Homo sapiens: one gene and its partners. The protein of the gene in region 4 interacts with the protein of the main gene of each other region in a pairwise test. Each region holds a gene or a part of one and is shown on either strand. Other genes may lie near its edges. The genes, in order: AUNIP, TACO1, RPP25 and DR1.

The links.
Region 1: the proteins of DR1 (region 4) and AUNIP interact in binary tests that used the Homo sapiens proteins (3 or more experiments, as listed by UniProt).
Region 2: the proteins of DR1 (region 4) and TACO1 interact in binary tests that used the Homo sapiens proteins (3 or more experiments, as listed by UniProt).
Region 3: the proteins of DR1 (region 4) and RPP25 interact in binary tests that used the Homo sapiens proteins (3 or more experiments, as listed by UniProt).

Annotation. Positions count from the first base shown.
Region 1 is NC_000001.11:25,855,899-25,864,187, forward strand, and holds the start of AUNIP (aurora kinase A- and ninein-interacting protein), read right to left. Parts: upstream 3,560-8,289; 5' UTR 3,460-3,559; coding exon 3,382-3,459; intron 1-3,381. Other genes in the region: PAQR7 (membrane progestin receptor alpha), read right to left, coding at 6,901-7,941. UniProt on the Homo sapiens protein: DNA-binding protein that accumulates at DNA double-strand breaks (DSBs) following DNA damage and promotes DNA resection and homologous recombination.
Region 2 is NC_000017.11:63,596,178-63,604,097, forward strand, and holds the start of TACO1 (translational activator of cytochrome c oxidase 1), read left to right. Parts: upstream 1-4,717; 5' UTR 4,718-4,906; coding exon 4,907-5,186; intron 5,187-7,920. UniProt on the Homo sapiens protein: Acts as a translational activator of mitochondrially-encoded cytochrome c oxidase 1.
Region 3 is NC_000015.10:74,953,754-74,961,548, forward strand, and holds RPP25 (ribonuclease P protein subunit p25), read right to left. Parts: upstream 3,020-7,795; 5' UTR 2,831-3,019; coding exon 2,231-2,830; 3' UTR 665-2,230; downstream 1-664. UniProt on the Homo sapiens protein: Component of ribonuclease P, a ribonucleoprotein complex that generates mature tRNA molecules by cleaving their 5'-ends. Also a component of the MRP ribonuclease complex, which cleaves pre-rRNA sequences.
Region 4 is NC_000001.11:93,362,751-93,370,442, forward strand, and holds the end of DR1 (protein Dr1), read left to right. Parts: 3' UTR 1-6,743; downstream 6,744-7,692. UniProt on the Homo sapiens protein: The association of the DR1/DRAP1 heterodimer with TBP results in a functional repression of both activated and basal transcription of class II genes.

The DNA of each region.
Region 1 (8,289 bases), about 68 Mb from region 4:
AAGGAGAAATGGTGTTAGTGAGTATGGTCATAAGGTCCAGGCCTCTAGAAATCAGAATAAGTTAAGGGCCTAGAGATCCTGGAGGATTCTATAACTGTCATGTACTACATCAACAAGACAAATGTTTTCACCATAACATTGCCAGGGAAAAAGGCAGGATTTGGGGGTATAAGAATTATAGACAGACCAGGCACGGTGGCTCATGCCTGTAATCCCAGCACTTTGGGAGGCTGAGGCAGGTGGATCACTTGAGGCCAGGAGTTCGAGACCAGCCTGGTCAACATGGTGAAACCCTGTCTCTACTAAAAATACAAAAATTAGCCAGGTATGGTGGCACACGCCTGTAATCCCAGCTACTCATGAGGCTGAGGCAGAGAATCGCTTGAATCTGGGAGGCAGAGGCTGCAGTGACCCGAGATCATGCCACTACACTCCAGCCTGGGTGACAGAGCAAGACTCCATCTCAAAAAAAAAAAAACAAAACAAACAATAAAACAAGATTAGGCTGGGCGTAGTGGCTCACGCCTGTAATCCCAGGAGGCCGAGGCAGGTGGATCACCTCAGGTTGGGAGTTCAAGACCAGCCTAACCAACATGGAGAAACCCCGTCTCTACTAAAAATACAAATTCACCTGGGCAAGGTGGTGCATGCCTGTAATCCCAGCTACTCTGGAGACTGAGGCAGGGGAACTGCTTGAACCCAGGAGGTGGAGGTTGCAGTGAGCTGAGATCGCACCACTGCACTCCAGCCCGGGCAACAAGAGCAAGACTCCATTTCGGAAAACAACAACAACAACAACAACAACAAAACAGAATTATAGACAGAGAGACAAATATTGGCTCTCCTCTTCCCTGTGGAATATTCCCTTTCTCGCTCTCCTGAACTCTTCCTAATTCTATTTCTGTTCTCTTTCTAAATTAAACTGGTGGCTGGGTGCAGTGGCTCACACCTGTAATCCCAGCACTTTGAGAAGCCACGGTGGGCAGATCACTTGAGCTCAGGAGTTCAAGACCAGCCTAGGTAACACAGCGAAACCCCGTCTCTACAAAAAAAAAAAATACAAAAAATGAGCTGGGCTTTGTGGCACTATGCCTGTAGTCCCAGCTACTCGGGAGGATGAGGCAAGAGGATCACCTGGAGCCCGGGGGCGTTGAGGCTGTAGGTAGTCGTGATTACGCCACCGCACTCTAGCCTGGGTGACGGACTGAGGCCTGTCTCCAAAATTAACTAACAAATCAAAGTGGTATACAAGTTTCCCACGCATCCCATGTCATTCAAGAATGTATTCAAAGGGTACAAATGGCTTATTCCTAATTCAAGGAGTAATAAATAGCTATTGCACATTTTGATTTTTTTTTTTTTTTTTTTGAGACTGAGTCTTCTGTCACCCAGGCTGGAGTGCAGTGGCACGATCTCGGCTCACTGCAACCTCCACCTCCTGGGTTCAAGCAATTCTCCTGTCTCAGCCTCCCGAGTAGCTGGGATTACAGGTACCTGCCACCACGCCCAGCAAATTTTTGTATTTTTTATAGGAGAGACGGGGTTTCACCATGTTGGCCAGGCCGGTCTCGAACTCCTGACCTCAGGTGATCCGCCCGCCTCGGCCTCCCAAAGTACTAGGATTACAGGCGTGAGCCACCGCACCCGGCCATTTTGATAATTTTTGAAAAAATAAAACAATCGGCCAGGCACGGTAGCTCAAGCCTGTAATCTCAGCACTTTGGGAGGCCGAGACGGGCGGATCACTTGAGGTCAGGAGTTCAAGACCAGCCTGGCCAACATAGTGAAACCCTGTCTCTACTAAAAATACAAAAATCAGCCGAGCGTAGTGGCGGGCGCCTGTAGTCCCAGCTACTCGGGAGGCTGAGGCGGAAGAATCGCTTGAACCCGGGAGGCAGAGGTTGCAGTGAGCTTAGATCGCGCCACTGCACTCCAGCACGAGCAACAAGAGTGAAACTCCATCTCAAAAATAACAATAATAATAATATGCCGGGCGCAGTGGCTCACGCCTGTAATCCCAGCACTCTGGGAGGCTGAGGCGGGCAGATCACGAGGTCAGGAGAGCGAGACCATCCTGGCTAACACGGTGAAAACCTGTCTCTACTAAAAATACAAAAAATTAGCCGGGCGTGGTGGTGGCCGCCTGTAGTCCCAGCTACTCAGGAGGCTGAGGCAGGAGAATGGCGTGAACCCCGGAGGTGGGGCTTGCAGGGAACTGAGATTGTGTCACTGCACTCCAGCCTGGGCGACAGAGCAAGACTCCATCTCAAAAAATAATAATAATAAATAATAATAATAAAATGATCAAATTTCTTATCTATAAAACCAGGATAATGACAAAATCTACTTTACTGAATTTTGGTGAGTACCTGCCATTGATAAAGTGTATAAAGTCTCGGCAAAATGCCTGACACATAGAAAGCACTCAATAAAGGTTAGGTATTGTTGTTATTATTTATACACCTCTTTTCTTCCCTATAAGACTGTGAGCAACCTGAGAGCAAGAATCTTGCCCCTAGTGTCTGTTTTGAGCCTGTTTTCCGTATGTAAAATGGGTATCATTACACTATCTACCATATAGAATTGTACCAAACAAGGTAACATACCTAAAACACTTAGCACCAGCATAAAATGCTCAATAAACATGAATGATTATTATGTCGCACTTTTGTTTCTTTACAGTGACTGAAGAGCATCTTGCCTAGGTGACAGACCTGAATGTGATTTCCAGCTCCTTCTAGTTAGGCGGGCCTAGGTTAGTTACTGAACCTCAGTTTCCTCATTCCCAGCAAGAATGACGACACATATAACGCATATTCAGTATCTAATGCAGTATCCGGCACCCAGTGACTGCTCAGTACATAGGAGGCCAGCTCCCCTTCCCATAGCTTCTACTTTTCCCCTCAAAGTTACCGGTTCTGGGCAGGTAGTTGGCCTGCAACTTGGCAAATTGGGTGGAAACAGACCCCGGGGTGAGAATTTCCCCAATTTGCATTCGCATCCATCTCCCAATGCTCCAGCCTCTACTAGGACGTCTCGCAGGGACTGTGGCCTCCTAGGGAGCCTGGTCAGTTCAACTGCTCCGAGCGAACTTTCCCTCCGCCTCTCCCACACCTGAACCTTCGCCGCCCCTCCCTGCGCACCGCTCCTCCAGACCCCCCAACAGCACGCTCTTTCCTTCCGTCCCTCCCATCCTCCCCAAGCCCCGTTTTTCAACCTTCTTCAGACCACAATCCCTCTCGCCTGTGAATCCCCAACGCTGTTCCCTTCTCTGTCCCCGACTTCGCTTTCATCATCTCCAGGTGTCCCCCAAACTCCTCCCGTCTTACGCCTCCAGGCCCTACCTGGTTCCCAACGCCCTCTCATCCCCCAGCGTCCCACCTGCACTTTCCGCCTCTTCAGCGCCGCCGCGTCCAGCCACACGCCGCAGGCCTCCTCCTCGGGGCCTGTCCGCCTCATGGCCGCTGAGGAGACGAAGCCGGCAGGACGCCGGCGCAGGCTCCCGGCGCCTCAGGGAACGCCAGAACCGCGGCCGCCGACGTTCGGATCTCGCGCCAACGCTGGGGGCGGGGCTACGTCGCGACCGCCCCGGGCGCCAGCCCCGCCCCGGCAAGGCCCTGGCCCCCTTCGCTGTGCCCCGCCCACGCACTAACTTTCGCGGCCGGTCCCTTGAGTGCGTGCGGCATATTTCCCTGCGCGGAGGAGTGCGTGTTCTTTCTGATCCGCTCTTTCAAGAGCGGATTCGGAAGCTGCTGTGTGAACGGTTCTCGACAGCCTCAGAAATGTACATTTTCTTTTTGCTGTATTGAAAATTTCTTACAGTATTTCCCGGGCTTAGGAATTTGTTCGTGTCATCGCTGAATCTTCGCGATCACCCCCAGAAGGAAGTGGCTGAGCCGAGATCAGGCCCGTCGACTCCAGACCAGGGGTCCTCGACCTAAGTGGTTACCAGACACTCGAGTGTGCGAACAACTTTGGTAATTTTTTTTTTTTAATGTAAGCGTAACTACGAAGCCACATGGGAGAGGATTTTGAAGAGGTTAAAATTTGGGGTCAGGAACTAGATTTCAGTCCTGCTTTCACCGTTTACTGTGCCTTGGATTTTAAAGAGGATCAAATGAGGTTGTGAAAGTACTTTGTGAATTCAGAAAACCCCTTGGAAATGCAAAAATGTTGGCACCCCCACCCATCCTTCCGTCCCTAACCACAATCTCCATAGATGGAATATATGTACATTATACGTAATGTTTACATATTGTATATGTAAAAAAAATTTTTTTTTGAGACGGAGTCTCACTGTCGCCCAGGCTGGAGTGCAGTGGCGCTATCTCGGCTCACTGCAGCCCCGCCTCCTGGGTTCAAGCGGTTCTTCTGTCTCAGCCTCCCTAGTAGCTGGAAGTACAGGCGCACGCCACCACACCCAGCTAATTTTTGTATTTTTAGTAGAGACGGGGTTTCACCATTGGCCAGGCTGGTCTCGAACTCCTGACCTCGTGATACGCCTGCCTCAGCCTCCCAAAGTGCTGGGATTACAGGCATGAGCCACCGCGCCCGGCCAAAAATTTTGTAATTTTTTTTTTTTGGTGGAGGGAGGATAGAAGCTCAGCCACCTCTTGCCCAGTCTGCAGCAGGTCAGCCAGGAACCTCAACCATCTCTGCAGCCAGAGCCTGTCTTCATGGTGGACAGAGCCATCTCGCTTTGTCACCCAGGCTCGGGTACAGTGGCACAGTCTCAGCTCACTGCAGCCTCAACCTCTTGGGCTCAAGCGATCCTGCCACCTCAGCCTCCCAAGTAGCTGGGACTACAGGTGTGTGCCACCACGCCTGGCTAATTTTTGTATTTTTAGTAGAGATGGGTTTTCGCCATGTTGGCCAGACTGGTCTCAACTTCCTGCCCTCAGGTGATATGCCTGCCTCAGCCTCCCAAAGTGCTGGGATTACAAGCGTGAGTCACCATGCCTGGCCTATATCAAAATATTTATTTATATACACATATTTTATGTGTGTGTGTGTGTGTGTGTGTGTGTGTGTGTGTGTGTGTATTTCATAAGGTCCCCCATGATATTTCAGCAGTGAAGTGATATTTCTAATTAATTTGGGTTTTCTTATCTTCCCAATTTTCCTTCATTGTATATATATTGCTGTGTACTATGGAAAAAGCAATATTATAAAAGTTAACATACTTCTTCGGTGCGCATGCGACGAGGCTCAATATGTGTGGTGGAGTGTGCACGCCCCTGCCCCCTCCACTAAAAACAAAACAAAAAAACCCTCCTTAATTGAAGGAAAAACCAAACAAAAAAAGTCTTTGTCAGATCATAAAGTGGGATTATCATATTTTAAACACATTATTTTAACTACTTATAAAACTTTAGTAATAAAACTGCCGCCCACTCCCTTGCCAAACAAATTTTGTATATATAGATATGGTATATAAGGCCCCAACCCCATCCCCCAGCAAAGATAAAACAAGAACTGCTCCCTGCACCCTGTGTCCACTCCCAGGGGCCCCAGCTTCCTCCGGAAAACCTCCAGTAATGTGAGCAGGGGCCCCTCCCGGAAACAGGAGACAAAAAACAAAGAGGTGGCTACTGTCACAGTACTTTATTGCATCCAGGCCATAATCCAGACCACCCAGCCCCAACCCCACTTTTCCTTCCACACCTCTTGGTCTCTGCACAGGTTTCCCTCTGCCTGGAATGCCCTTCCTATTCTCCATCTGCAAACTCCTATTCACACTCCCCAACCTAAGACCCTGAGGGTCCCAGGCAGCACAGGTTAATCCCTCTCCAGCACCTCCCTTGACAGTTCATTCTGATATCAAAGCCTTTGTCGGCCAGGCGCAGTGGCTCATGCCGGTAATCCCAGCACTTTGGGAGGCCGAGACGGGCAGATCACCTGAGGTCAGGAGTTCAAGACCAGCCTGACCAACATGGAGAAACCCCGTCTCTACTAAAAATACAGAAAATTAGCCAGGCATGGTGGTGCATGCCTGTAACCCCAGCTACTCGGGAGGCTGAGGCAGGAAAATCGCTTGAACCTGGGAGGCGGAGGTGCAGTGAGCCGAGATCGCACCATTTTACTCCAGCCTAGCCAACAAGAGCGAAACTCCTCAAAAAAAAAAAAAAAAAAAAAAAAAAAAAAAGCCTTTGTCATCTTGCATTGATCCACAGGGCCCAGTGGTGACCTGCCTCTGAGCAGAGGCCCAGGAAACACTGAATGGATAAATGAATCCGTAACAAGGGAACCAGGAGAGAAGCTGGGAACAGGCCGTGTGGGACACAGAAGCCAGAGCTAGGAGATCTGGGGCTCACTGTCTGGGATAGTGACTGAAGGAGTATGAAGCACTGGATGGGACCCATTTGTATCTGGCACAATCTACTACCTTTGGGGTCTCTCTGCAGCTCCAACACTTGTGGCTGGGCTTCAAGGGACAGTAAGATCCTGTATATATTTTGGGCCTACCCCTTCCGCATCCAGCAATGAAATCTGAGTAGAAGTAGGTTGCCAAGGCCTCCCCTGGCTCAGCTCAAATCTGACTCTGGCCTAAGTTTCACCTCCTGCCTAGACAATCTAGAAGCCCCAATCCTCACCAAGCTGACCCCCAGCCTCACCCCAGTGAGTGGCAGTGGAAGGGCAAGCTGGAGTGGCCCACACCGTTAACTCTTTCCCTCTCCCTGGGCAAGGAGCTGGGGCAGGCCCAGGAGTGGACCCCAGCAACTCCTAGCCAATCCCTAAATCCAAGAATTGGCCAGTGATGCCCTTGGCAGTTGAGTCGTGCACAGAGAGTCACTGTGGGCCAGACACAAACAACTTTACCAGGCCTTGTTCCCACCTGGAGCCAAACCCAGACCCCTGTCCCCCAACTATACCTCCCTCCCTACCAGATGCCATCCCCCTTCACTTGGTCTTCTGATCAAGTTTGCGCTGTACCAGCTGGCTCAGGAGGAATGCAGTGAGGATGCTGCTGCCCACCGTGAGCAGGAAGAGGCCAGAAAAGTTGTGAGGCCAGTGCGTGTGCAGAGGCTCATAGATGGGCCGTCGGGCCTCATAGTCCAGTGCCACAGCCTCCAGCTGAGCCAGCGTGCACAGCACCAAGAAGATGTGGAAAAGTTGGTGGCCCTGCCCGAAGACATGGCAGCTGCCAGGGAACCAGCGCTCGGGCATGAAGGTAGAGAAGAAGGCAGCAGCCAGCAGAAAGAAGACCACCTGGCACTTGTGGTAGAGAAGAGCTGGATCATCCGTGGTGGGGTCGGAGGACACGAAGATACGATGCACCACAGGACTAATGTCCAGTGCGTAGGCCAGGACGGAGGGCACCTCCTGGCATGTGCGGCCCAGCAGGCCTGGTTTCTGGATGTACTTGTTATAGCAGGAGCCAATGCAGGAAAGCCAGGCGAGAAAGGCAGCCATGGGCAGAAAAACAGCCTGCACCTGGGCATGCCAGGCGGGCTCGATAGCATAGTAGAAGTGTGCCAAGGCACTGCCAAACTGGTACACGGCCACCCCCACATAGTCCAGGAAGAAGAAGCTGTAATGCCAGAACTCAGACTTGGCCTGCAGGAGGTGAGCCAAGGCACTGAAGGAGAGGTAGGTGAAAGAGGCAAGGACAATGATGAAGAGGGGCAGGGCGTGTGGGTCTCCCCAGAAGTCCACGGTCTCCACAAAGAGGGCCAGCCGCAGCAGCAGTACCAGGGCCGCCAGCAGGTGGGTCCAGACATTCACGGCCTCGTTGTGCTGCTGGAACAGCGTGCGGAAATAGAAGCGCCAGGTCTGATGCAGCGGCCGGTAGCCCGCATAGATGTACGGCTTCCAGAAGAGCGGCGGCACCTCAGCTCGATCCACCGTGAAGACAGGCTCTGGCTGCAGAGATAGCTGAGGCTCCTGGATGACCTGCCGCAGACTCGGCAGGAGGTGGCTGAGTTTCTGGGCCATGGCCATGGCTGTGGGCCTGGGCAGGGAGCTGGGAGAGAGACCAGAGCAAAGTCAGGGGCCTGGTGTCCTCACCCCCACGAGCAGCAGCTGGGGGGCTCTGATGCCCAAATCCTACTCCCTCCTCTCCGACAGCCTTATCCTTACACTCGGTTTAAGAACAGAAGACTCATCCTATGGAATTCCTCATCTCTGACCTCATGAGAGCAAGGATCCCTGATGTATTCCAGGTACCTAGAACAGTGCCTGACACATAGTAGGTGCTCAATAAATGTTTGAGGAATGTATTAACTAATAAGGCTCCCTGTCTTGTTAATTTCCTTTCCGGTCCCAGGCTCCACACAGCAGCACCAGCTG
Region 2 (7,920 bases), on a different chromosome or scaffold from region 4:
CCCGGGTTCAAGCGATTCTCTTGTCTCAGCCTCCTGAGTAGCTGGGACTACAGGCATGTGCCACCACGCCTGGCTAATTTTATATTTTTAGTAGAGATGGGGTTTCATCATGTTGGTCAGGCTGGTCTCAAACTCCCGACCTCAGATGATCCACCCACCTCGGCCTCCCAAAGTGCTGGGATTACAGGCGTGAGCCACCGTGCCTGGCAGAGAATTTAAGTTTTATGAGTACCTGCTGGTCCTTTGGAACTGTGCTGCTATATGGTCTGACAATGTATATTTTGTGAGAAACACATGAGTCCTGCTCTCTGGTTTTTAAGGAGAAAACAGAGAGTAATACTATTTATAGGCTAGCCTATGCTGCGGCAACAAACCCCCAAATCTCAGAAACTGAGCACTACAAAAGCTTATTTTTTGCTTACACAAAGTCCTCTGGGCCGGGTGCAGTGGCTCAACTCTCTAATCCCAGCACTTTGGAAGGCTGAGGGGGGAGGGAGGGGCAGATAGCTTGAGGTCAGGAGTTCGAGACCAGCCTGGCCAACATGGTGAAACCCTATCTCTACTAAAAATACAAAAATTAGCTAGGCATGGTGGCACACGCCTGTTGTCCCAGCTACTTGGGAAGCTGAGGCAGGAGAATAGCTTGAACCCGGGAGGTGGAGGTTGCAGTGAGCCAAGATCGCACCACTGCACTTCAGCCTGGGCAACAGAGCAAGACTCCATCTCAAAAAATAAAAATAAACGTGTGACCTCCAGGTTGCTTATGGGGGGTGGGAGGGAGTACATTTTTCAGGATGGGCCGGGAAGTGGCTTACTCACTTTTGCTCCTATCTGCCAACTGCAAGGAAGGTCAAGTCAAGAAATGTAGTCTTCCTGTGTACCCTGGAAAAGGAAGTGAAGTAGTGAATAATTATGTCTCAGCCATACTAGCAAATCGGCTAAGTATCTGGACTAATAACTAATGTAATCTCATTCATTGAGAGCTGTTAGTACTGGACAACACATGGTCAAACCTAATGGAATGATATTTGTAGCCAGTCTTTAGCTTCCAAGGCTCATTGTTACTTAAGTGATTTCAGTGAGCCTGACAGCCAGGCGTCTAGAGATGGTTCAGTCAACTATGAATTTATCTTGAAAGGTGGCTATTAACTCAGACTGAGAGTTAAAATCTGCCCTGCCATTCATCACAGATGCACAGACAGATAAAACCAGCTGCACAGTTAACAGGATATAGTACCTCTATCAAGAACACACTGCAATTTTTTTTTCTTTTTTTGGCAACATAAAGTGTCAAAACTCCCTGAGTGACTACTGTTTTAAAAAAATTCACTGAGAAATTTCGTTCTCCAAAATCATAGGCTGACAAAGTTTGCTGTTTGCAATTGTATTTGTGAGAATTAAGGCTTATAGTCAGTCTTGCTTGGAGGAGCTGAGTCACTCTGACAGAGAAGCAGCCTTGATTTCCAGGCCAGGTATTGTGCTTCAGAGCAGGGGCTTCTGAACACAACAGTCCACATTTACCTTGACTTTGTACTTTCCAGGGAAACTGATCCCCTGGGTCCACTTGGTAGTCCAGCTGATCTTAATCCGCCTTTCACACAGGTCTGTGTTTCTTTGAGCCTAACTCTAATTTTTCACCTAACTTCCACCCTTCCCCATAATTCTATGACCAGTTTTTTCTTCGGTAAGACACTTCACCATTCCTCTGGTGTGCAGTCTCCCTTGTTGCAGTGAGTTGATAAGCCTAACTCTGTGAGACTATAGGTTTCCCTTGCTGGTCTCAGGCTGACTGGACTAGGGCAGTCTCAAACCTTGTTTTAGCCTCTACACTTATTTGTGATTACAAATTCCATTAATTTGATTTTTGCTTCTCAAAGTAAATATTACATATATATTTTTTTCTTTTTTTTTGAGATGGAGTCTCGCTCTGTCACCAAGGCTCAAGTGCAGTGGCGCGATCTCGGCTCACTGCAACCTCCGCCTCCTGGGTTCAAGCGATTCTCCTGCCTCAGCCTCCTGAGTAGCTGGGACTACAGGCGCGTGCCACCACACCTAGCTAATTTTTTGTATTATTAGTAGAGACGGGGTTTCACCGTGTTAGCCAAGATGGTCTCGATCTCCTGACCTCATTATCTGCCCCAAATCGGCCTTCCAAAGTGCTGGGATTACAGGTGTGAGCCACCATGCCTGGCCTGAATAAACTATTTTTAAATTGCAAAAAGTAATACTATATATGAATGGCTGATAAGCACATGAAAAGATGCTTACCATTAGTAGTCATTCAGGAAATACAATCAAAACCACAATGAGATAATACTTCTCACCCACAAGGATGGTGATAACTATAGTCAAAAAGAATAACAAATTTAGCCAGTGGCTCACACCTGTAATCTCATCTACTTGGGAGACTGAGATGGGAAGATCACTTGAGCCCAGGAGTTCTATGCTGCAGTCAGCTATGATTGCTCCACTGGACTCTAGCCTGGGTAACAAAGCAAAAAAAAAAAAAAAAAATTCATGATATGGAGAAATTAAACCCTCATATATTGCTGGTGGGAATGTAAAATGATACAACCACTTTAGAAGACAGTCTGGCAATCCCACAAAAGGTTAAACATAGTTATGATATGACCCAGCAATTCCACTCCTAGGTATATAACTAAAAGAAGTGAAAACATAGGTCCACACAGCAATGTGTACATGAATGTTCACAGCCTCATTATTCATCATAGAAGGTGGAAACAACCACATGTCCATTGCCTGATGAACAGATAAATAAAACGTGGTATATTCATACAATGGAATATTATTTGGCAATAGAAATGAAATACTGATACATGCTACAACATGCAAGAATCCTGAAAACATCATGCTAAGTGAAAGAAGCCAGTTACCAAAGGCCACATAGTGTGTGGGCCCATTCATATTAAATGTCCAGAAGAGGCAAACCCACAGAGACAGAAGTAAATTGGTGATTGCCTAGGGCTGTGGGAATTGGGGGGAAATAGGGAATGATTGCTAATGGGTACAGGACTTCTTTTGGGGATGATGAAAATGTAAAATCAATTGTGCACAGCTCTGAATATTCTATAACACATTGTACACTTTGAATTGGTGATCTGTGTGATCTGTGAAATATGTCAAAACTTAATTTTTTAAAAAATGAGAACTGTGTTGGGCATAGGAAGTACAGTCCTACTCTCAGAGAATTTAGTATTACGGTAGAAACAGATATAAACATTTTGATATTTTTTTAAAAGGTAAGTGCTAAGGTGCAAGCATGTATGAAGGGCTATGGGCACCCACCGCACCTGGCTAATTTTTGTATTTTTAGTAGAGACGGGGTTTCACCATGTTGACCAGGCTGGTCTTGAACTCCTGACCTCAAGTGATCTGCCAGCCTCGGCCTCCCAAAGTGCTAGGATTACAGGCGTGAGCCACCGCACCCAGCCCCATGGAGGTTCTTATATAATAAAAAATAAAAAATCTATGCTTTTGTGCTTTGCATCCATTATCCCATTTAGTCCTCACAAGGCCATTCTATGGTAAGGAAACTGAAACAGGAAAGTAAAGGAACTTGCCCAAGGATACACTAGAAAATGGAACAACCAGGGTTTGAAGCCACCCAGTCTAACTGCAGAGGGCACAAACTTGGACTTCACACTGTCCTGCTTCTCTCTCTCTCTCTCTCTCTTTTTTTTTTTTTTTTTTGAGTTGGATTCTCGCTCTGTCGCACAGGCTGGAGTGCAGTGGCGCGATCTCGGCTCACTGCAACCTCCTCTTCCCGGGTTCAAGCGATTCTCCTGCCTCATCCTTCTGAGTAGCTGGCATTACAGGCGCGCGCCACCACGGCCGGCTAATTTTTTTGTATTTTTAGTAGAGACGGGGTTTCACCATGTTGGTCAGACTGGTCTGGCACTCCTGACCTAGCGATCCGTCTGCCTCAGCCTCCCAAAGTGCTGGGATTACAGGCGTGAGCCACCGCGCCCGGCTGTCCTGCTTCTCTACCTGATATGTCATGCCCTTTGGACTTAATCTCACCAGCATGGGAGTCACTACAAAGCTTTTCAGCAGCTGCCGCTTTGTTTCTCTCCATCTTCTAACGGATTCGGTTTTCTCTTTCGAGACAGCAGAGAGAAAATGAAGAGGGGAGTTTAGCTCCAAAGGGCTTGTCTGATCATTCTCCCTCTCCCAAAGGCCTGTGACTCATCTGAGTCTGTCCCAAACCATCTCTTGCATCTAGGGGCTTAAGTGCACTGTGGCTATTTACATAAAACTTTATTACTTTAAAGCTCTAAGGGCTCATTTTGTGTTTCTAACTTTCCTATGTTGATAAAGCAAATATTAGATCCTTATTTATAAATAGGGAAGACGTTCAGAGAGATTAAACATTTGGGCAATTCACTTCTCTGGCAGCAGTTTCTTTCCCAGTACAATGAGGCAACAACAAAATATCATTCTGGACTTGCTCAGATTTAGGCAGCAATTTGGAAGCAAAGTCAGTTTCATAACTCAGATGTGTCTCCACTAAAACATTATGAGAAACAAAGTCCGGCGCTCTCTAGGCAACCGTGAGGGCTTGAGCACTAACTAGATCTGCTCAAGGGCAAGAGAGGAGCGAGTACCGTGCAGCCACGGAACGGACTTTGCGGGCAGTGGGGACGTGTTTTTGGAGCGAACCCGGTAAAGGAAGTGTGCTACGCCATCAAGGGCCCCCAGTCCCGGGTGCCGCGGGGACAGTGTAGGGTCATTAGCTGTTGAGCCGCCCCGGGCGGGCCCAAGCCTTTGGATCTCAGGTGACCGGCACAGGCGGCCGCGGGGTCCGGAACTGCTTGTTCCGGCAGTGGAAGAGACGCGCCGGCGTTGGCCGCTGCTGCTAGCAGCTTGAACCCCAGGGTCGGGACCGATGTCGGCTTGGGCTGCTGCCAGCCTAAGCAGGGCCGCTGCCCGATGCTTGCTGGCACGAGGCCCCGGGGTCAGGGCGGCTCCTCCGCGCGACCCCCGGCCCTCCCACCCCGAGCCCCGGGGCTGCGGTGCCGCTCCGGGCAGGACGCTGCACTTTACCGCGGCTGTCCCCGCCGGGCACAACAAGTGGTCCAAAGTCAGGCACATCAAGGGTCCGAAGGACGTCGAAAGGAGTCGCATCTTCTCCAAACTCTGTTTGAACATCCGCCTGGCAGTGAAAGGTGAGACCCTGACGGTCACCCAGCACTGGCTGCCGCTGCCCTCTCAGTGCCCGCAGCCTCGCTTGCCTCTCGGAATTGGGCCCACCTAGATCTCCGGCCCTTCACTTTGTTTTCCTTCCCCAGTACCCACCATTGCCCACCTCATAAATCCTCAAAACACCTACCCTACGTTGGAGGTTCTCACTCACTTTTCCAGACGCTGAGCATCTGGCCAGTTTGTCAGAGAGGGAGCTGCTCTTAAGAAGATAAGCCGGTAAGGTAGAAGTGACTTCATCCTAATCTAGCTGGGTACTTAATAGAAACAAGCCCTAAGAGTCAGGGCAGATGTGTGTCTCTCCTGAAGAGACAAATCAACCCCTCTGAAGTCGCCTCAAGTACCTTATTGGTTGTGGCAGGGGCACTGAGTAAAGCTATTACTTAAGTGCTTAGGCCTTAGCTTAGGCCTTAGTTTGCTTCATTAATGTTTCCCCAAGACACATTTCCTTGGAAGGTAGATTTGCAGCCATGTCTTTTCTCCCTTAGGTCGCCACACTGAAAAGGCTTTTTTTCTGTTTAGGGCCAGACATCTGTAGGAGCAAAGGAAAAGTCCTGTAGAAAGCATGGACTTTGGACTGGGCGCAGTGGCACAGCCTGTAATCCCAGGCCAGAGGCAGGCAGATCACTTGAGGTCAGGAGTTCAGGACTAGCCTGGCCAACATGGGGAAACCCTGTGTCTACTAAAAATAACAAAAAAAAAAAAAAAAAAAAACAGCTGGGCATGGTGGTGCATGCCTGTAATGCTGGCTACTCGGGAGGCTGAAGCAGGAGAATTGCTTGAACCCAGGAGTTGAAGGCTGCAGTAAGCGAGATTGCTCTACTGTACTCCATCCAGCCTGGGTGACAGAGCAAGACTCCATCTCAAAAAAAAAAAAAAAAAAAGAGAGAGAAACTGTGGACTTTGGAGTCAGGAAGACTGGTTTCTGTCACTGACTAACCTTGAACAAGTAGCTTAACTTGAGTTTCTCTGAAACAAGGATAATACCCACCTTGAGGTAGTTTATGGTTTATGGCACATCATAGGCATTCAGTTAATGTTAATTTACCCCCTCAGCTCATGCCTGGTATTTGTTTGCTTCCTTTTCTTCAAAATTCTTGATATTAAGTTCAAGCAACTTTTATTTATTTATTTATTTATTTATTTTGAGACAGAGTCTCACTCTGTCACCCAGGGTAGAGTGCAGTGGCGTGATCTTGGCCCATTGCAACCTCCACCTCCCAGGCTCAAGTGATTCTCCTGCTTTAGCCTCCGGAGTAGCTGGGACTACAAGTGTGCACCACCATGCCTGGCTAAATTTTTTTGTATTTTTAATAGAGACAGGGTTTCACCATGTTGGCCAGGCTGGTCTCGAACTCCTGACCTCAAATGATCTACCCACCTCCACCTCCCAAAGTGCTGGGATTGCAGGTATCAGCCACTGCATCCCAATGAAGTTCAACCAACTTGTGTTTATTTTGTGCCAGGCATGCCATTGGTACTAGAAAGATGATGAGATACAGCCCCTACCCTCAGATCACAATGTCATGTGAACATTTCAATAATTATGCACAAAGTGCTGGGCACGGTGGCTCACACCTGTAATCTCAACACTTTGGGAGGCTGAGGCCGGCGGATCACGAGGTCAGATCGAGACCATCCTGGCTAACACGGTGAAACCCCGTCTCTACTAAAAATACAAAAAAATTAGCCAGGCGTGGTGGTGGCGGGCGCCTATAGTCCCAGCTACTCAGGAGGCTGAGGCAGGAGAATGGCGTGAACCCAGAAGGCGGCGCTTGCAGTGAGCCGAGATTACACCACTGCACTCCAGCCTGGGCAACAGAGGAAAACTCTGTCTCAAAAAATAATAATAAAAATAAAATAAAATAAAAATAATTATTATGCACAAAGTAGTAGAGTAAGAGCAGTAATGAGTCCAGGAAGTGTTGTTACCATCTATAACCCTTCTTCATCTGACACAAAGTAGAGATCGCTGAAACCTAGCAGAATGAAAACCATCCCTAAAGACAATGAATTAGAAAGTTCTGGCCAGGCACGGTGCCTCATGCCTGTAACCCCAGCACTTTGGAAGGCCAAGGTGAGTGGATCACTTGAGGTCAGGAGTTCGAGACCAACCTGGCCAACGTGGTGAAACCTCATCTCTACTAAAAATACAAAAATTAGCTGGGCATGGTGGCAGACACCTGTAATCCCAGCTACTTAGGAGGCTGAGGCAGGAGAATCCCTTGAACCCGGGAGTGGGAGGTTGCATTGAGCCAAGATGAGCCAAGATCATGCCACTGCACTCCAGCATGGATGACAGAGTGAGACTCTGTCTCAAAAAAAAGGTCTTTTCTGGCCAGACATGGTGGCCCACACCTGTAATCCCGGCACTTTGGGAGGCCGAGTCAGGCAGATCACTTGAGCTCAGGAGTTTGAGACCAGCCTGGGCGACATGGTGAAAACCTGAATCTACAAAAAATACGAAAAAAATTACCTGGGTGTGGTGGTGCACACCAGTGGTCCCAGCTACTTGGGAGGCTGAGGCAGGAGGATCGCTTGAACCCTGGAGGTTGAGGCTACAGTGAGCTAAAATCATGCCACTGCACTCCAGCCTGGGTGACAAAGTGAGACTTTGTCTCAAAAAAAAAAAAAGTACTTTTCCAAAATACTTATCCAGGCCAGGGGCAGTGGCTCACACTTGTAATCCCAGCACTTTCG
Region 3 (7,795 bases), on a different chromosome or scaffold from region 4:
CTGGAGTGCAGTGATGCAATCTCGGCTCACTGCAACCTCCGCCTCCCAGGTTCAAGCGATTCTCCTGCCTCAGCCTCCTGAGTAGCTGGGATTACAGGCGCCCGCCACCATGCCTGACTAATTTTTGTATTTTTAGTGGAGACGGGGTTTCACCATGTTGGCCAGGCTGGTCTCAAGCTCCTGACCTCGTGATTTGCCCGCCTTGGCCCCCCAAAGTGCTGGGATTACAGGATTACAGGCATGAACCACCATGCCCGGCCTCAGGCCCTGCTTTCATAGTCCTGGTAACCCGGCTATCAGTCACTTGTTGTCTTGGAAAGTTGGACCCTTTTCAGAACCAAGACCAGTCTCCCTTAAGCTTCTACCATGCAGGACCTTGTCCAAGTTTTATCACTGCCTTTAGATGCTGAAGTCCAGGAGAAGCTAGGCCATCTTGTCAGGACAGTTTACATTCTTTCCATGCTTCTTGGGCCACCCCTGAGAGGGTCAGACAAGCAAACCCAAACCCCTTGGCCCTCTCCAGGGACTCATCAAGAGCAGGAATTTGGGGAGAGCAACGAGGGACAAAGTCTGGATGACAAAGCTCACTCCAAAGCTCAAGCAGAGATACTGCAGGGGAGGGAAACCTCCCTAAGAGCCCCTCCAGTCAGCCACAGAACGTATCTCTTGTCACCAGCAGGATTTATTTCAGGGTTCTGCCAGCAAAATGACTTATAAATACATTCTTCCGCATCTCCCCCTTTCCAGGGGTGCTGCTGAGTTGCATGGGATGAGATCTGCTTCTGAGATCCTGGGGCTGTATGCCACCCCCAACTCACCAGAGCTCTTCCAGCACACAGCAGCACCCCCACCCCCCAGCTGGCTTGGAGTTGGGCAGAGAAGCTTATGAGGCTGTTATCTCTCAACAGACAGCTGTGCAGGGCTGGAGGCAGCAGCTTATCAGGAGGCCTGCAGTGATTCACAGCCCAAGACCCAGCTTCTCTGCTGAATAGTAATTTCCAGCAGTGGATTTGTGCTCAGTCTCTCTCCTCCCCCTTTCCCAAGGGTGTGCTGTCCTTTCTCAGAGAGAGGGCAGTGAAGGGGAGATCCTACCCACAGAGCTGGGGGCTTTGTGCCAGCCTTCTGGGTAAGGTTCAGTTTATTGTCTGGAGGCTGCAGATTCAGGGACCTCAGCAGGGTCTGCCACCCTTTGCAGTGACCTCCAGGAGAGTTCATCGATGCTGTCCTTCCACTCCTTCCTTCCCCTCCCAGAAAAACAATGTGCCGCTCCCTTTCCCTTAGTGGCGATGTACAGGGGTACACGGGCCCCCATTTGCAACAGCCTCTGAGGCCAGGGCCAGCCCGGGAGGGCGGAGTGGGGGAGGAGAGAGGAAGAAGCCAGGGACTGGGCAGTGCCTTGCACCATTTTGAAGCTGTTCAGTCTCTGTGCCTGACCCTGAAGACTCCAAAGACTCAGGACGCAAGGCTGGAGGGGAGGGGAGACACAAGGGGCCAGGCGAGAGCTGTCTCTGCACAGGCGGGTGGTTAGAAAAAAAATGGGGGACACAGCCATTTTTGTGCTTGTTTTATTGGAAGCAAGACTCCAGCCAGCTGCAGGGCTCAGGGGAGGAGGCCTGGAGAGTTCAGTCCTGGGTCTCCCTCTGGGCCAGCAGGGGGAAAAGGGGTGTTAAAAGAGCTAGAACCCTCAGAGATGCTCCTCTGAAGCAGGGGAAAGAAAACTAGAAAGGAAAACTGTCCCAGGGCGGGGAGCGGAATAGGGCCCCCACATCTCAGACTCTCCTACCCTCAAGCAGTTAATTCTCACCCCCTGCCTTCCTCTGTCAACGGTGGGGGTGATTCCAATAACTCTTCTCAGCTTCCATACTTCAGGTGCTCTTCGTGAATGCTGGGTGGCTTTAACCCTTGGGGGTCCCAAACAAGTTTCCAGAATCCCACTGTCCACCATTCTCCCCCAAAGAAGGTCCCAGAAAAGGTGAAGTTCCGTGTCTTCACGCAACACGGGCATAAGCAGCAATTATCGCACGAAGTTTCCCTAGGGTGGTCGGGGATCCTCTCCTGCCACTCCTGGGGCCCCTCTCTTGTCGCCTTAAGGTCCATGCTACCTGTCTTGAGGAGCTGTGTCCAGGTTGTGGGCTCCGGAGGACCGAGGAGTGAAAGGCTGGAGGTACATCTGAAGGTGGAGGCGCTGGCGGAAGATCCTGCCGGACTAGGTGGCCCACAGTCCGGAGTTTCAGGCCGTCTGATCCTCGTCCGCAACCCCTGGCTCGGGTTGCGATCGCTTCGCGGAGCCTTCTCCAGCTGCGGGTTCCCCTAGGCTCCTCTTGGACGCTGGCGCGGCTGGCGGGGACGAGGGACCAGGATGGGGATTCGGGGGCTGGTAGCCGGGCTGTCGCGGATCCAGCGCGTCCTTGGAAAGTAGGATGGCGAGGCCGGGCACGTTCTTAAGTACGCTGAGACTAGCGGCCGGCTCGCCAGGCGTCTGACCCTGCGTGGGCCCAGGCGGGAGGCTCTGCCACACCTCGCGTACGCTCCGGTAGCGCAGCCGCGTGACCTGGTGCAGGCCCGCCAGGCGGCGCTTGAGGATCTCGGCGCACGTGACGGTTTTGGTGGTGGCCCGGCCGCAGCCGCTGAAGACGATGGCGCGCGTGGCTGGCTGCGCCATGCTGGCGGTGGCGAAGGCCATCAGGTTCCGGATCTTGCTGCCTTCCTTGACCCGCATGTGCACCGCGCCCGGCGCCAGGTCTGCGAAGGGGCCGGAGCCCGGGCCGCCTCCCTCGGCCCCGCACCCCGCTGGCGCCTCTTCGGAGCGCACCTTACGGAAGTTCTCCATGCGCCGTCGTCGCCGGGACCGCCGGCTTTGCCATGGGGCGGCCTCAGCCCCGGGGCTGCATGGCCGCCGGTCGCGCCTTGCAAGGGCCAGCAGGGGTAAGGGCGCCGGAGCAGCGCAGACGCCGGCGGGCGGGCTGGGACGGCGCGATCTCGGCCCCACTTCTCTCGAGCGGGCGCCGCTCTACTCAGCGCTCTCGGCGCCGGGTGCTCCGCGCCTTTAGCTGAGGCCCCGCCCCTGCCGCCAGGCCCCTCCCCTGACCCGGCCCGGCCGGGCCCGCCCGGGCCCCAGCCTCACTAGCCTTTCCTGGCGAGTCTGGGTCCTCAGCTACGCGGGCGTGGGAGCGGGCGCGCTGCGGGGCGCATGAGCAGGTGAAGGTGAAGTTCCACTATAATCGCCATCAGCGCTCTGAGAGCCAACCCTCACAAACCGGCAGTCTAAATAAAAGCTGCGCTTGCCGTGCAAACACTGCTTCAAATCCGGTATCCGAGCCCTTCCCATTTGCAACTGAAGGCCGCCCCTCGTCCCCTCCCAGGGAGAGATTTCCAAGAGGCTTGCTGGGGCCTTGCCCCTCCTCCCCCGCCCCGGGGAACACCCCCACCTTTTTTCCGCTCCCAAGTATTCTTGCCTCAAGGACAGCTAGTGCGCGGTCAGCAGAGTGCGGGAGGAGCTGGCTGCGGCTCCACTCCGCGCCTCCCCGCGGGCGATTACGTCGCGGCGTGGTCCTCGCGGGGCGCGGAAGACCCAGACTTCAGCCTCGCCACGCCTGCCCGGAGCTCGAGGCTCCCGGACCCCCGTCCACCCCTGGGACGTGAGGAGTGAGGCTTTGGGCCAGGCTGTTCCCCGAGGCGCGTGGGGAAGCGGGCGTGACCTCTTCTGAAAAGGCGGTAGGCTCGCTCCACCCAGGCCCTAGAGCCCACCCTTAGAGCTGCGCGCTTTAGGGTGAGCCAGGCACGATGCCTTGCCAACGTGGCCGCCCCCTTCCTCCCAGGCGGAATTCGCTCAGGCAACATTGGCCCCTTGAGATCCAGTGGGGTCCTTTTCGAAAGGAGGCTAGGTGAACGCAGGTTTTAAAAAAGAGAAGGGAGGGGCCGGGCGCGGTGTCTCACGCTTTTAATCCCAGCACTTTGGGAGGCAGAGGTGGGCGGATTACTTGACGTCAGGAGTTCGAGACCAGCCTGGTCAACATGGTGAAACCCCGTCTCCATTAAACGTACAAAAATCAGCTCGGCGTTGTGGCACGCTCCTGTAATCCTAGCTGCTCGGGAGGCTGAGGCAGGACAAGCGCTTGAACCCGGGAGCTGAAGGCTGCAGTGAGCCGAGATCATGCCACTGCACTCCAGCCGGGGCGACAGAGCAAAGCTCTGTCTCGAAAAATGAATAAATTAATTAATTAAATAAAATACAAAAGAGAAGGGAGGGATACCCCATTCTCCAGGATGTGATTATTATGCATTGCATGCCTGTATCAAAACGTCTCATGTACCCTCTAAATATAGACACCTATTGTATACCCACAAAAATTAAAAAGACTTAAAAAAAAATAAAAGAGAGAAAGAAGGGAGGAAGATGGGGAGTTGAAGCCCTGGGGGCATTATGGAACTACTGGATGCCTCTCCGGCGGAAACTCCACGGGACCGAAAGAGAGGCCCGGGGTCTCCTGCCGGGTGAGAGAAGCATTAGAGAAAGATGAGATTGGGGGCTGTCAGGACTACTGATGGAAGGGAGGGGGTCTGAGAAGGGGCCCGACCCTCCCTAAAACTGCTCTCGGGATTCCCCCGTCCTCCTTCCACCCGCCCTACGCAGTCAGGACTGAGAGAGGGCGGCAGATCTGGTCCTAGCCAGGGGACTGTGACGGGGCGTGGCGGGGAGGGACACAGAGAGCTGGGGCGGGCGGGCCACCGGGAAAGTGCTGGGGGCATGACAGTGCCTTGGATTGCTGGGCCTCAGTTGGAGATGGGGCTGCCAGATGCTGTTCTCCCTCCTCCCGCTGTTCTCGCCCTCTGGGCATCTGCAGCAGCTCTCAGTCCCTGCTGTTCAAAACCAGGGTTTACTTCCTTGTCACTTCTTGGGAGCGGCCCTCGGTCCCTGCTGTTCAGAACCGGGATTTACCCTCTTACCACTTCCTGGGAGTGGCTGCGGCGACTGGACCTTGGCACCGCAATGTGTGAATGGCTGACCCCCTCCCCGTCTCCTGGTGGGATCAGGAACCCTCGGGGTATGCTCCGAACCGGGACTTCGGTCTCGGTCCAGTCTCCATGGGCCCCACACAGCGGTGGGGGCTGGAGGCACAGCAGCCTTGGGAAGAAACAAAGACTGTCCGCAGCGCGTAGCGGGGCGTGGAGAACCGAGGGCTGTGTAAGGTCAGGCCCTGAGAAAAAGCCCCCGAAAGGCTGGAAGTTACGTTGGAACGGGCTGGTTGTGGAAGGAGCGAGCTCTCCGTCCCCGGGAGTATGCAAGTTTGGGCTGCACGATCACTTGGAAGGGATTGGGCGGAGTTCTGTCATTTGGAGAAAGGGTCCTGGGAGCTTCAGGTTTGTGTAGGGCGAGGACGGGGCGGTTCTGCGTCCGGCCAGGTTGGCCCTCGAGGACCCAGCCGTCCCCAACCTCCTAAACTGCTGTCGGATGTAGAAGACTCGCATTCACTGCTCTCCACAGTCGGTGAAGGGAGAACGCCGAAAAGGGCCGCATTCCCTCCTGCCGGTCCCCTCCCCTTCCCGCGCTCCCTCTGCAGCACTTAAAATGTAAATGTACATCGTGATTAGCCGCGGGGTCGCTAATTACAGCTGAAGCCATTCATTACACTGTCAGCGCGCGTCGCAGCCCGCCGGCTGTGCGCTCCCTCCTAGCCGTGAAGGGGTGTAGGGGGTGGGGGCGGGAGATGCGGGGAGTGAGGGAGGAAGGATGGGGTGCTGTGAATTAGGGTAATGTGGCAGGCCTGGAGGAAGCTGGAGTGGGAGAGAGCGGGCAGCGAGCGGGGAAAACAGGGTGGGCGGTGAAGGACGGGGCGGGGTGGCGAGGAGAGAGGAGAAACGCGAGAGGCAGGAAGGAATTGGGGCATGAAGTAGTGAGGACACAGGGAAAGGGGCTGTATGAGGGGGGAAACAGCGTAGGGGACAGGGCGAAGGGAGAAAAAGCTGAGAAGAGGGTGGGAACCCCAGGGTGGGGCCAGAGTCAGAGGAGGGGAGCACAGGGCTCAACTTCAGAAAGGCTGGTAAATTTTAAAGTAGAGCATCAGTGGTGCACACCACACAATGGTTAGAAAAGTGGAGTCAGTGAAGACGTTGTGTTAAAGGAGCTGGGTGCCAGCCATACACAGAGTAGGGGGGCATTTATTTCCGTGTGTGTTTATAGATGTAAATGTATTTTTAAAATATCTGCAAGAAAACAGCACACTGACCTCTTGTTACCGCATGAAGTTTTCATTACCTTCTTTAAGAAAAGGACAATTAAATATGAATACAGAGTCTTGGAGCAGCTTGCATAAATGAGCTACTGACCCTGAAGCTTCAGCTTCTATTAGCTTCTTTCTGCCTCTGTGTGACCTTGGACAATTTACTTAACCCATTTGCTTTGGCTTTGTCATCTGTAAAATGGGGCTAATTATAGTAATCTACCTCACAGAGTGATTATGAGACACAGCCGTCTTGGAACCTTGGCTGCTAAGTTCTCAGGAAATGTTGGCTGTTATTATTTTTCATATATTATTTGTGAATTTAAAAAAATTGTAAAGGGATTGGGGGAAAGAAAACTGGTGAAAAGGAAAAGAAATTGGGAAAGACTCAGAAATAATAGCAGTTTTCACTCACAGTGAACTGGTGAGTGGCAAGCTAGACTCCTTTCACCCTGGGAGGAGGTGTTGGGGTAGCTGGGCTAGAGGCCAAGCCTAGCCAATACATATCTGTTAAGGTTCCCTGGGACCTTTCCAGCAGCACACCCTACTTCCTGTGGACAAATCTCTCATGTTCACACTGGAGGGGGATCGCTGGTACAGCCCCTCTCCTCTGTCTCTTGTTGCAGGAGGAGGATGAGGAGCTCTTAAAACCCCTGATCCTAGTCCCAGCCTCTTTGGGCAGGGTCTTGGGAGCATGCAAGTAGAGTCAGGAATTAGAAAGTTAGCAGGGCCAGGCCGGGCGCAGTCGCTCACTCCTGTAATCCCAGCACTTTGGGAGGCAGAGGCGGGCGGATCACGAGGTCAGGAGATCGAGACCATCCTGGCTAACACAGTGAAACCCTGTCTCTACTAAAAATACAAAAAATTAGCTGGGCGTGGTGGTGGGCGCCTGTAGTCCCTGCTACTCGGGAGGCTGAGGCAGGAGAATGGCCTGAACCCGGGAGGCGGAGCTTACAGTGAGCCGAGATTGTGCCACTGCACCCCAGCCTGGGCGACAGAGCGAGACTCCGTCTCAAAAACAAAACAAAACAAAAACAACAACAACAAAAAAGAAAATTAGCAGGGCCAGAGGGAACTCAGATTTAGCAGGCACCCACCGAGTGCCCAGCATTGGGTCAGATGTGTTTAATCTCCACACTCTTCTTTCCAGGAAGGTATCATCATTGTTTGACAGATGTGAAACTGAGACCCAGAGAGGTTAAATAACTTGCCTTATGTACCACAGCTAGAAAGAAGCAACCACAGATGTTTGAACTCAGAGTTCTGACTCCCTTTACTATCTCAGCCGAATGTATGAGAAAAATAAACTTTTAAGTGACTCAAACTGCCCAAAGGGGTTAGCTTTGGGAGATGAGGGTGTTCCATAGTGGAAAAGATGTGTTGGTGATCTGTTGCTGCATAAAAATTACCCCACAGCTCAGCAGCTTAAAACAGCAAACATTTGGCCAGGTGCAGTGGCTCCAGGAAGTTTAGACTGCAGTAAGCTGTGATTGTACCACTGCATTCCAGCCTGGGCAACAGAGCGAGACACTGTCTCAAAACAAACAAACAAAAAAAAACCCAACAACAATCAT
Region 4 (7,692 bases):
ATTTTTATAATTTACAGTCCTAAGATCGAGGCATAACAAAGCTTACTTATGCAATATTTTATTTTTAGGTTTTTTCTTTTTTTTTTTTTTTTTTTTTTTTTTTTAGCATTTAAGAGTCACTATTATGTTTTGCCAGTTAAAATTTTTTAAATCTTTTGAAGAGAGAAACAAAATCTTCAGCGTTCTTGAGAAATAAAATTATTGTTCAGTAAGTATTTTTCCATCCCCTTGAATATATGTTATATATTCTTTTTCGGCAGATTATCAGATTAGTAAGTGTTTAAAAGGCATCAGTTTTTAAAACTGCATATACCACACACACACAAAACAGTACACAAATAAAGGTTTTCACAAATTAAACAAACTCACATACTAGTCTTCAGATCAAAACACAGAGCATTATGTGTACCCCAGAAGCCCTCCTCTTTCCCCATCTTAACACTGTCTTCTTTCTTGCTGAAAGTTACTATCCTGACTTCTAAAATCATAGATTAGTTTTGCCTGTTTTTTATTTTATGTAAATGTAATCATACATAATACACTTTTTTTCATTCATCATTTTTGTGAATATTTTAGTTTCTTGTTGCCACTGTAACAAACTACCACAAACTTAGTGACTTAAAACAACACAGATTTATTCTTTTATAGTCCTGGAGATCAGAAGTCCAAAAATCAGTTTCATTAGGCCTAAATCAAAGTATCAGCAGGGTTGGCTCTTTATTGAGGTTGTGAGGGAGAATGTTTTCTTCCCTTTTTTGGCTTCCAGTGACGGCCTGTATTTATGGGCTTGTGACCCCTTCCTCTCTATGATCAAAGCTTGCTTTTGTCATTATATCATCTTCTCTTCTGTAGTCAGATCTTTCCCTGCCTCTAAGTTTAGGGCTCACCTGCATAAAGCAGGGATAATCCCCCTATCTCAAGATCCTTAATTTAATCACATCTGCAGAATCTCTTTTGCCATATAAGTGACATTCACAGGTTCCAGGGATTCATACGCTGGCTATCTTTGGAGGCCGTTATTCAACCTGCCAAAGTGAGATCCATTCTTATTGTTGCATGTATTTGTAGTTCATTCATTCTCATTGCTGTATAGTCTTCCGTTTGTTTATCCATTTTTCATTACATCCAAAAGTTATTCATTCTCCCATTAATAGTCTTTTGAGAATTTTTCAATTCTGAGCTATTATGAATAGTACTGTGTAGAACATTCTTATACATGTCTTTTGGTGAGTGTATACATTTCCATTGAGTATAAACCTAAGAATGGAATTGCCAGGTTGTAGGGTGTGTATATTTTCAGTTTTAGTATTTACTGTCAAACAGTTTTCCAAAGTGACTGTAAGAAGGCACCATTTTAATGTGTAGCATAAAAATGAATTACGCTAATGATCTTAGTGGGTTGAATTTCTCGAAACACCTAAATTGTACCAAATGAGTTATATTGCAGCAGGTATGTTGTTAATTTCATATAACAGGAAAATAAGAGCAAAAGTAATTGCCCTTATTAACTGACACATTAGTATTACATACTCATTAGGTTATTGCTCCTTAGAAAAAATGCAAATTTTAAGTAATCGTAAGTAGTATGTTGAATTAGTATGTTGTGGGAAAATCTGTGATTTAATTTTTTAATTGAATTTTAAATTTTGGGTTATAACCTCATTAAAATGCATGATATTTCCTTATATAGGTTTCTAAATTATGTCTGTCCAACTCATCTATATCCAAATGGCCATTAGGAAGAATTATCCAATTCAGATGGCATAGGCACTGCCTTCCAATTTCTTCATTTGTATTTTTTTGTTGCTGTTTTCTTTTTTGCCTCTGTCCCCAACAATTTGACCACAAGTCCTACCCCACCTCCTCTGTTTTTCACCATCCCCCAGGATATAAAGTGTCATGGTTAGGATCGGCCAGGGTGAAGAGAATGATAACATAAGTAGCCTCCTTTCACCTAAAGTATTACCACTGGTTCTTATCCTATTTCCTCAAAATAAATGAGAAGAGAAAGTAAGGAATAAGAGGAAGAAACTTTTTTTTTTTTTTTAAAGAAACAGGGTCTCACTATGTTTCCTTTTTCTTTTTTCTTTTCTTTTCTTTCTTTTTTTTTTTTTTTTTTTTGAGACAGAGTCTTGCTCTGTCACCCAGGCTGGAATGCAGTGGCGCGATCTCGGCTCACTGCAAGCTCCGCCTCCCGGGTTCACGCCATTCTCCTGCCTCAGCCTCCTGAGTAGCTGGGACTACAGGTGCCCGCTAGCACGCCCAGCTAATTTTTTTTGTTTTTTTTTAGTAGAGACAGGGTTTCACCGTGTTAGCCAGGATGGTCTCGATCTCCTGACCTCGTGATCCACCCGCCTTGGCCTCCCAAAGTGCTGGGATTACAGGCGTGAGCCACTGCGCCCGGCCTATGTTTCTTAATATAGATTGCAGTGGCTAGATTACAGTGACTATTCACAGGCATAATCATAATGCACCATAGCCTCAAACTCCTGGGCTCAAGCAATCCAAAAGGAGGAAACTTTTAACTTATGATCAGTTTCTACCATAAATCAAGCAACTTAGAAAAACCTTAGAACAGGGTTTCTCAAACCAAGCATTGTTAGTATTTGGGGTTGGTTAAGTCTTTGTTTGTGGGAGCCTATCCTGTGCATTGTAGGATTTCTAGCAGCATAATTGGCTTATGCCCACTTGATGTCATTAGCACCACTCCCCACCCTACTTCCAGTTGTGACAACCCAAAAATGTCTCCAGACATAGCCAACTGTCCCTGGGTGTTGCGAGTATAGGAGGCAAAATTGCACCCTGTTGAAAACCACCACCTTAGATCATCTAGGTTTTACTTTTAGGATAAGACACTTGAGGGAAAGGCTGTGAAACTGAACCTCTGTTAGAAGCAACACACAGTATCACTGCAAAAAGACTAAAAGAAATAGGTGATTTGGAAAGAGGAGGCCCAGGATTAAAATATGTTTCCAAGAAAGTCAAATCTTACAGGAGACTCTTGACTTCACATCTGCTGATCCCTTTACCCGATAGGACCTAGAGCAGCCATTATAAATCTCTGTACCTGCTTGCTGCTTTTCTACCTCATTGTTAGCCACACCCAGTTTGAAACAGATGAGGTATGCTATTTCATAACTAGTACATCTTTTAATAAGCATTTTTTATTGTGATTAAATATGCATATCGTAAAATTCACCACTTTAACCAGTTTTAAGTGTTCAATTCTGTGGCATTAAGTATATTCATACTATTGTGCAACCACCACCACCATCCGTCTACAGAACTCTTCATCTTCCCAAACTGAAATTATGTATTCATTAAACAATAACCACCCATTACCTCCTCTCTCCTCAGCCTCTGGTAACCAGCATTCAGTCTCTATGAATTGACTACTCTGGATATCTAAATGGATTCATTCTTATTTCATTTACCATAATGTCTTCAAAGTTCATTCATGTTGTAGCATGTATTAGAATTTCTTTCCTCTTAAAGGCCAAATATGCCGTAGTATGTAAATACCGTATTTTGTTTATCAGTTCATCCATTAATGGACACTGGGTTGCTTCTGCTTTTTGGCTATTGTGAATAATGCTTCTGTGAACGTGGGTATACAAATAACTGTTTGAGTCCTAATAGGCTTGTTATTTTTGAGTGCACAGATCTGTATATTCGCAATTGAAATAGGGAAAGTCTTTATATTCATATAAAGATAATTTATAATACAATAAGTCCTCAATGTTGTTGATAGGTTCTGGGAAACTGCGAGTTTAAGAAAAACAACATATAATGAAATCAATTTTACCATAGGTGAACTGATATAAATAAGAGTTAAGTCCCTATGGCATATATTTCTGGTTACAAAAACACTACCAAATTTCTAATAAAGACCCAAAACACTTCTAAAATTAAACATTGAGATTAATATGAGCTTTATATACATTTAAAAAGGATAAAAACAAGTAAGAATTGGCTGGACATGGTGGCTTACGCCTGTAATCTCAACACTGGGAAGTCGAGGTGGGCAGATGGCTTGACCTCAGGAGTTCGGAACCAGCCTGGGTAATATGGTGAAACCCGTCTCTACAGAAAAATTCAAAAATTAGCCAGAGGTGGTGGCTTGCACCTGTAGTCCCAGCTACTCGGGAGCCTGATGTGGGAGGATCCCTTGAGCCTGGGAGGTCGAGGCTGCAGTGAGCCATGATCACGCTACTGCACTCCAGTCTGGGCAACAGAGCAAAATCCTATCTCAAAAAAAATATATATATTATCCAGCCCCAAATGTTTATGGGGTTGTTATTGATAAACCCTGCATTAAACAATCCCACAGTCGGTGCTGCGGTGAGCCGTGATGGTACCACTGCATTCCAGCCTGGGTGACAGAATGAGACCCTGTCTCAAAAAAAAAAAAAAAAAGTAAAAATTATTTACCCAATATTTGGCGAATCAGTGAGTGACAGCAGTTGTAGTGCTAGTGGGTTAAATCAAGGAATAACTGTTGGGAAGTGAAAATTTTAAGGAGCACCTCCTACCACCATGCAGTTCAAAAACAAAAAATAAGAAATAAAGTGGGCTTGCTGAGTGCTTTCATACTGCATCATTTATTGTGCATTTGTATGATTATTATATACTTTACAAATTTTCGTTTTACAGTAATTTGTATTCATTCGTTTTTCAACCTGCTTATTTCAGTTCAGTGTCTTGGGTAGCTGGAGCCTATCCCAGCAGCTCAGGGAGCAAAGTGGGAGCCAACCCTGGACAGGATGCCTTTTCATCACAGGGCGCACTCACACGGCACACACACGCATACTGGGACCATTTAGCTGTACCAATTCACCTAACGTGCATCTTTGGGAATTGAGAAGAAACCAGAATACCCAGAGAAAACTCATGCAGATATGTGGAGGACATGCAAAATTCACACAGACAGTGGCCCTGGTTGTAAATAATTGTTTTTCATCAATGTTATAATGAAATTACAGGCCGGGTGTGGTGGCTTACGCCTGTAATCCCAGCACTTTGGGAGGCCGAGGCGGGTGGATCACGAGGTCAGGAGATAGAGACCATCCCGGCCAACATAGTGAAACCTCATCTGTGCTAAAATACAAAAAATTAGCCAGGCTTGGTGGTGTGCACCTGTAGTCCCAGCTACTTGGGAGGCTGAGGCAGGGGATTTCTTGAACCCAGAAGGCGGAGGTTGCAGTGAGTTGAGATCGCGACACTGCACTCCAGCCTGACAACAGAGCAAGACTTCGTCTCAAAAAAACAAACAAAAAAAGAAATTACATTAGTTGAGGACCTGCTGTATGTGATATGAACAATGAGGATCAACTCTTTTTGTAATAGTTTTTTTACATATGTTATTTCATTTGTTTATTTCCTCTGTGAGGGTAAGTATTGATAGTCCAGTCATAGACTGGTAACACAGGCACACCATTAAAAATAATAGACATACAGTATGCAGTATTTTGTTTTACTTATGAAACTCCGTATTTTATGTATGATGTATTGAGTATGAAGAATAGTACATACTGTTTCCTTTTAACTTTATGTTTCTTGCCTTTGTATATTTTATATGAATAGCACTTGTCACTAACATAGAAAGCAGTAGAGGTGGAAGAGGGAGACTTGCCAGAATAAGTTTTTAATGTGAATCAGAGATTTTTATTAGGAATTGGGAGTGGAAGGAGAGAGATAGTATTAGAAAGTATGTATGCAGCAAAGGATGGAGAAACTGTCCTTGTTGTTAAGGCATCTAAGGATGCTCCAATTACTGGGGAAAACATACCAGGCTCAAAATGGTCTGATTATGCAAATACCTTCTAATACGTTTGTTTCTTTTGTTGTGCCTATAAAAGATGCCATTAACTTCATATTTATGTCACTAATAAACTTCTAGAATCCATGTAGTAGGGTGTAGTAGTGTGGTTAAGCTATGAAGAACAATGGTATTTATTTCCAAAACACTTATTTGGTATATTACATAGGATAGAGTATGTTTTCTAAGCCAAATAGTGTTAGGTTTTCATGTGCAGTTGCCTTACACATATACTAGTAGCCCTTACAAAATTTCGTCTGTCTTTATTATAAACATGTTGTAAGTGAGGAAACTAAGATTCCAAGAAATTAAGTACTGTTGGCCCTCTGTGTCTGGGGGTTCCACATCTATAGATCGACCAACCATGGACTGATGGATTGAAAACATTTGGGGAAAAAACAAAAAATAACCCAACAATGAAATAGTATAAATTTTAAAAATAATATAACAATATTTATATATCATTTACATTATGTTAGATATTATAATCTAGAGATGATTAGCATCCTTGGATTTTGGATTTTGGTATCCTTGGGGTATCCTGGAACCAATCCCTGGCGGATACCAAGGGATGACTGTAATATAATAACATCTAACAAGTGAAGGATTTGAACCCCAATGTAAGTAATTATGAAAACTATTTTTCTTCCACTAGAACTTTTTTCCCCAAAAATACTCTGGAAATACTGGAACAAATACTAAAATAAATGACCTTTATTTGAAGATCTTTTAAAAAAATTATAAGCCTGCCTGAGGATAGCAAAATTGTGTGCTTTTGCAAGGTAATTGTAGAACTCATTCTAAGGAAGCAGAGGTAATGTCTGTTACTATTTTCAGCTCCCTTTTTCTGTCCACTGTTGTCTAAATGATTCACTCAGTGTTATGCAGAATATGAGAAGTTATTTTATAAAGTTGATTTGTGGTATAGGCTTTACATATGTCTTTTCTTTTGGTCAAAATACTAAAGAAAGCTTATAGAAAAAGTGACCTGGTGTCAGGTTTTAGTTTCATCCTTATCCAAATGTTGCAGAATTTTGGAATCTTTTGGAGTACACTTTCTCTTTAAAACAAGCCCATCACCTTTAGTATAGTGGTGAGTAAAAATAAAATAAAAACAAGGCCAAATTGCGTTTTTCTAAATTGCAAGTTCCCTGTTTTCCATATCCCAGTAACAAACCTACTGTTGTGCAAATAGGAAATAACATCTAGTAGCTACTTTAGCAATGGACGTGGCAAAATAAATAAATTAGTAGCTATGGCTCATTATTTAGGATTTAAATGAGCCATAACTACTATAAATGAAATTGAAGATCATGTTCTTAATTTGAAATTAAGGATCATGATCTCATTGGTACTGATGAGTCAGCAGCTATCAATATATAAGGATAACCCTTATATTTTAGGAATTATTTTAGGAGAAAGAACTATTTTAGGAATTATTTTACACAGAATTCTAATCATGCTGCCTTGGAGGTTAGGCAACTACCATTCCTCACTTTGTAGCTTTATTGATTCTCTTCTGAAGCTTGCAGTAGCCTCCTAACTTGCCTTGCTGCCAGTCCTTCCTTGTCCCAGTCTATCCTTCACATTGCCACCAGTGTTATTTTTCTGAAATACGAAAGCGAATATGAGGCTTCTCTGCTCCTTGGTGATAATAGTATAAAGTCCAAACTCTTAAGTATTACATAAAAAGTATGTTTCACAGCACACCTCAACTTTGTTTTCTATAATCTCTTAATCGTAATGAAATCTGGGCTAAATAATGCTATCACTTTAACTACCTTTGTGCATGCTTCCTCCCAACTCTGGAGTAACCTTTTCCCATCTTTACCTGGCAAACTTCAAACCATACCTCATGACCCAGCTTAAATTTT